Linked DNA regions of Homo sapiens: region 1 is linked to region 2. The links come from fine-mapping of genetic effects on gene expression. Tissue or cell type: sun-exposed skin. Region 2 holds a variant in brackets; the other region holds the start of a gene. All regions are shown on one strand. Distances are from middle to middle.

The links. PIP is the estimated chance that this variant, and not a neighbour inherited with it, causes the effect.
Region 1: SUSD4 starts here. The variant in region 2 is fine-mapped to the expression of SUSD4 in sun-exposed skin (GTEx, PIP above 0.99).

Annotation. Positions count from the first base shown.
Region 1 is chr1:223,362,792-223,365,400 of GRCh38, forward strand. SUSD4 (sushi domain containing 4) reads right to left here and starts at 1,385. Exons shown (of 9, transcript NM_017982.4): 1 at 1,266-1,385; 2 at 487-669. The coding sequence starts at 634.
Region 2 is chr1:223,468,982-223,471,733 of GRCh38, forward strand. No RefSeq gene overlaps it. Among named protein-coding and RNA genes, the nearest start is that of CCDC185, 77 kb to the left of the region's middle. The variant G/A (reference allele first, on the strand shown) is at 1,582.

The DNA.
Region 1 (2,609 bases), 110 kb before region 2:
AGTCTGACCACGTTTCCAGACCCTTCACATTCTCAAAGGTGGTTCTTAAACTCTTGCTTAAATCCAGAGGCTGAAATCTGACCTCTATCTGCTGAAGGCATTGGCAAGAGGTCCACAAATACACCACTCCCCACTGCCCCCACCCCCCACCCCTCCCCCCCCCGCCCCCGCTTCCTTGGCCAAAGTGGGAATAATGGGCCAGGCTTTATTGTCTTTCCTTGGGAGAAGCCAGGCCCGGAGGCTGGTGGGAAGCTCCAGACAGAATGTGGGTGTGTGAATCTGTGCGGGCTCCACATGGGAATTTTCAGGGAACTCCAGCGGTTTCGGAGAAGGGCGGCCATAGGCTGGGACGCAGGCACCCTCGCGTTGTCAGATCCTCCTGAAGTCTGGGTGTATGGGGGAGGGGTGCAGGGCTGTCCTGGCAGCTAGGCTCTTTCTCCCCTCTGGGCCATCCCCAGGCCCTCCCACCACAGCTGGGTCACTCACCGCCCGTGAGCTGTGCAGGGCCGAAGCACAGCGCCAGCTGAAACCACAGGATCACGGCCAAGAGTCTCTGGGGGGACTGAGGTTGCTGCTGCTGCTGCTGCTGCTCTAGAAATCCATCTCCATTGCTCGGGTTCATTCCATGATACATCTTTCATCCACAGAGGGCATCCAGCTTGCAAGAGTCTGCAACCAGAAGCGGAACACCACAATAAGCCAGTCTGTCCGGGCTCGGGGGCCACGCTCCCCCTCCTCCGCTCTGGGACCCGGCGCCTCGGCTTCCCAGGCTCCATCCTGGTTCCTCCCCCGCGCGGCCCCCGCCCCCTTTCCCACGGCGAGGTCCCCCGCCTTCCCCCGAGCCGGGTGCACTGAGTAACAGCCGCCGTGGGATGCTGCGCGTGCTGGGGGATGGAGGACAGGAGGGAGGGCAGGGGTTAGCGCACATTGGCTCCGCGCCGGTCCCCGGGATTCAGCAGCTGTGCCCACCACAGGAAAGTCTAGAGCCTCCCCGCGTCTCGGGGCCGCGAAGACACTTTTCCCTGGGCCTATACATTTCACTCTGGGAATCTCACAATGTGGCACCGTCTCCCCCAGCTACTTCTCTGGTTTTCCTCGGGATTGGGATCGATCCTACTGCCCCAGTCCCCAGTGAGATTTCTCTGCGCTGTCAAAAAAAAAAAAAAAATTCTCCCTTGGGGAGCTGCACCAGGCACCAACTCCCCCTCCCCGGCCTGCGCGCGCCTCCTCGGAATGGAAGACCCTTCCGGGACTGTCGGTCTTACCTGTGGGTCTCATGCATGCAGCTTCCTTCCCTCCTCCGCCTCCTCCCCCCGCCAGTCTAACCCGCATCTGTGCGCGACCTCTGCTGCCGCCGCTGCGCGAGCGAGCGAGACGGAAGCTTCGGCGGCGGCGCTCGGCTCCAGCTCCCCCGCCCGCGCGCTCCCTCCCCAGGCGCCCCCGAGCGGGCGGGTGTTGGGGGAGGACGGGAGCCCGGCCGCGCGCCCCCGCGGAGGCGCCCGCGCGCCCGCTACCTGAACTCGCGAGCGCGCGGCGGCGGCGGCGCGGAGAGAGGGAGTGGGTGGGGACGGGGTGAGTGGGGGGGCGGGGACGGGGCGAGGGGTGCGCGGGCGCGCGAGCACGCGCCTCTGCCAACCCAGCCGGCGCCGCGGCGTGGCCGGAGACTGGCGAGGGCGGGGACGGGGAAAGGGGCCCGCCGCCGCGACCAATGGGAAGCCCGCGCGCCTGCACCTGTCGGGGCGCGAGGCGCCGGCGGCCGGTCTTGCACACGCACGCAGCTCGGTCGCCCCTTCCCCGGCGCTGGACTGCAGCCCCTGCCCCGGCTGCGCGCCAGCTCAGGTGCCCGCCCCGGCCTCCGCGCGGCCTCTGGTGCCCCCAGCCCGCGGCGCGGCGCGGGAGAGCGCTCCGCCCTAGAACTACCGCCGCGGCGGTGGCTGCAGACCCGGGGCGAGTGCGCGGCCGGCAGCTCCCAACCCCAGAACTCTCGCCACAGACCCGGTTAACTTGAGCACCGCCAATTGCCCGAGTCTCTTAATTTCCCGCGTTAACCCCTCCCCGCTCCCATCTCCGCCGAAGCTCTGCGCGTCCCCAGGGAGCCCGAAGGACCATCTGAGGCGGCTGAGAGACACTCTCCCCCTCCCCCACACCCTTGGTATTTTCCCTCTGCCAGCCGCAGGTGTTGCGAGTGAGGACCCCTGTCCGGTCTTGGAGATGCGCGGGGCCCTCGGAGCCTTGGCCTGGGAGGCGCTCCCGGGGGCGGGGAGGCGGGGGTAGCGGGTGATTGGTGACACGCAGAAGGTTGGGTACCTGGAGGAGGGGAGGCTTCCGGGGTCGTAGATGGGAAGCCAAGGGGGTCGGTGGTAATTGCCCTCCCAGCCCCAAGTGGAGAGAGTTGGCCTGGTCGGTCCCCTGTCTCTGCGCCGATTCTGGTGTCGGAGCTCAGCCCGCAGTGGTTGCAGCTCTCACTCGCCGCCGGCTCTGATCGCCCGCGGTCGGTTTCAAGATAGGGAAGCCCACATTCCAGCCACAGTGATTAAGAGGTGTCAGCTAATGAGGTGGCGTCCACCGGCAGCGCTTTAGAGCCAGTGACACTCCATGATTCTGTAGCA
Region 2 (2,752 bases):
CATTCCCAGCAGCCCCTCTTCCTCCCCAGCCCTTCAACATGGCCACCAGCCAAGGATGTCTGTCTTCATTTGAGTAGACTGGAAGTTACAGAGAAAAAGAAGTGGGGAGGTGAAGACATTCCAAAGATTTAGAGCTGTGTTTCCCATACTTATTTTTCATCATCACTCCCCTAGGAACTATTTCAGACATTTTTATCTGGCTGTCAAGGTCCCAGCCTCCCATAAAGTTTCAATACCACAGATGTACTACATATCTGTTTAGGGACCATAACCCTTTGGAGGGCCACAAAACATTGGCTCTTTTTGACCCCCAAGAACTGATTTTGTCCCCTAAGGAACAATATCCCCACTGTTAAGAATGTAAGATATTGTAGAGGGGTCTCCTGGGACTCAAGGCCACAGGGGTCGTAGGCCTGAGGAAGAGGCCATAAGAAGAAGAAAACGCACTTCTGCTTCTCTCCTCCCACCCTACCTTATCTGTTTACCTGCCCAATTCTTCTCTCCGTTTCTGCAAAGTCACTTTCTTTGCAATGCAGACACATGGAGGAAACCTTGCTCGTTTCTCCCCAGTATTTACATTCACTCTGTTCAAGGATCCATCCCAAACAGAAGCTGGAATCCTTTAGCCTTGATCCCATATGCTCATGGAAGGAATTCCCCTAGCCAAGGTCAGAGACTGTGTCCACTCCTGAGACAATCAATAGGGCCAGTGGGCAGGGTCATTTTGTGCAAAAACATCTGCTAGCAATCTGTCACTGCTACCAAGTGGACAGAGAAAAGCAAGTCCTAAAGGAGGGACATGATGCTGCCTTAGAACCCAGTTCCTCCTGACACTGGTCTTTTCATAGACCCCTTCAAAACCTCACTTGGGTTTTGGCTTCGTTTCCTCCACCCACTCAGGCCTGGGCCTCTCCCAGACACCCTCAAGTCAATTCACAATCAACAGGGGCCTGGAGGGCTGTTGGCTCTGACACAAGCAGGGCCTGGTCCACGGCTGAGCTTGGCCAACTGCCTGTCTTTCCTCTCTGCTAATGGTCAGTGGCATCATGTGGATTTCATCTTCTCTCTCCAGCCCCAGCTCTGAATCTCTGATGTAAGCCATTTCCTTCTGGCAGATTCCTAAAGACCAGTCCTGACCTCTCCCAACCCACTCTGCACAGGTCCCTTACAGCCAACTGTCTTTCATGCCCAGATGTTGGGCTTGTCTTTTACCTGCATGTAACCTTTGTGCTGCCCACCAACCCGCAGCTGTCCTTGCCTTCAAAAATACAACCTGAAAGCAACTACCCTTTCCTAAAAGTTTCCCCATATCCACCCTCCATATCAGTAACACCTTTGACGCATACATATCACTCATTATCTCCTGAGGTGAACACTCTCACCTTCTCTCCTCTGCTTGACTGTCCCTCCCGAGGGGTGTCCCATGCTCAGGTGGCTCCACACGCCTGGCACCCACTGCCCTGTGGTGCTCTCCTTTTGTCCTGATTCTTTCAGGTCACCATGCTTTCCAAGGGGCCACAGCTGCAGGTAGTTTGCAGAGAATTTGAGCAAAATGTCCTCCAAGCCAGAAACTGGTGAGAC[G/A]GTAAGAAATGCCAGGAAGTACATGAACAACTCAGTTCTTTCATCCCAGAGAGGTGGTAGCTGTGCACTTCATCATATTCTGAGCTCTCAAAACCTTGATACCCCAACTTGAATGGGAAAAGTGGGCCCTTCCCAGCAGGGGTGCCGATGCTCACTTGTCTCTTAGTTTTTTATATTCAGTTTGTAGGAGCCAGTGGAAGCTAAGCAGCAGTGGGAGGTGGAAACAGATGCAGTCACCTTTAGAATTAAGTTTTAGCAAAGTAGCCCTTGCCTGCATAGCCAGGCAAAAATGGTCATGATCAGATAACAGCAAATCCTTCCTTCCACCCCAGCTTCACAAGTGCTGTCAGATTCACAGGCAGCTACGTCTTCTCATGAGGGGAGCAATAAATGGAACATGTGCAAAATGATTTTATCAAGAGCCTCTCAGATGATGGCCACAGAGGACGGGACTCCAAGATGTGAGTTGAAGCCCACCCTTAAACTTTCAATGTGAGGGCAACCCCTTCCTTGTCCTCCCAGTCTCTGCCGCATCTCCTGCCTCTGTTTCTCTCCCTTCTGCCTCTGCACACCGCCTTCGTCTGCTCTGTCTTCATCTTGGTAACCCCCCTAGGTACCTCTCAATGTGGCTACCTGGCCCTCAAAATGCCCCCTTCTCTGGGAAGACACCTAAAACTCAAGGTGAGCCCCCAGGAATTATTTCTGCCCATGTGATCTTGCCCCTGGTTGGAACTGATTGTCCCAAGGGTAGACACCTGACCCAAGTTGAGCCAGCCGGTTTCTCATGCAAATTTGAACTCAGAAAGGGAAGACACAATGAATAGTTTAGAACGTTAGTGGCAGCCCAGGAGATCCTACTGCTCTGTGTCTCAAGCTGTCTCAGTTCCTTTCTTTCCTGGGTCAGCTGGAATTATTTAACCTTACTAAACGTTTGCTTAACAGTTAGAGTCTGTCAACCAGAGACAAAAGCACTATGAAGCTAACAGAACCATTTTCTCCATGTCTGTATTCCAGATTCCCCCACAAGAGAATTGGATTGGCTCAACCTCACCTCTGGAATGGTTTCTCCTGGGCCAGTGTCCACCCCAAGGCCAATCTGCTGTGGCTGGGTGAGGGTGGGGTGCAGAGCCCCTTAGAAACTTGGCTACAGCAGCCTATCCTTAGGAGTTAT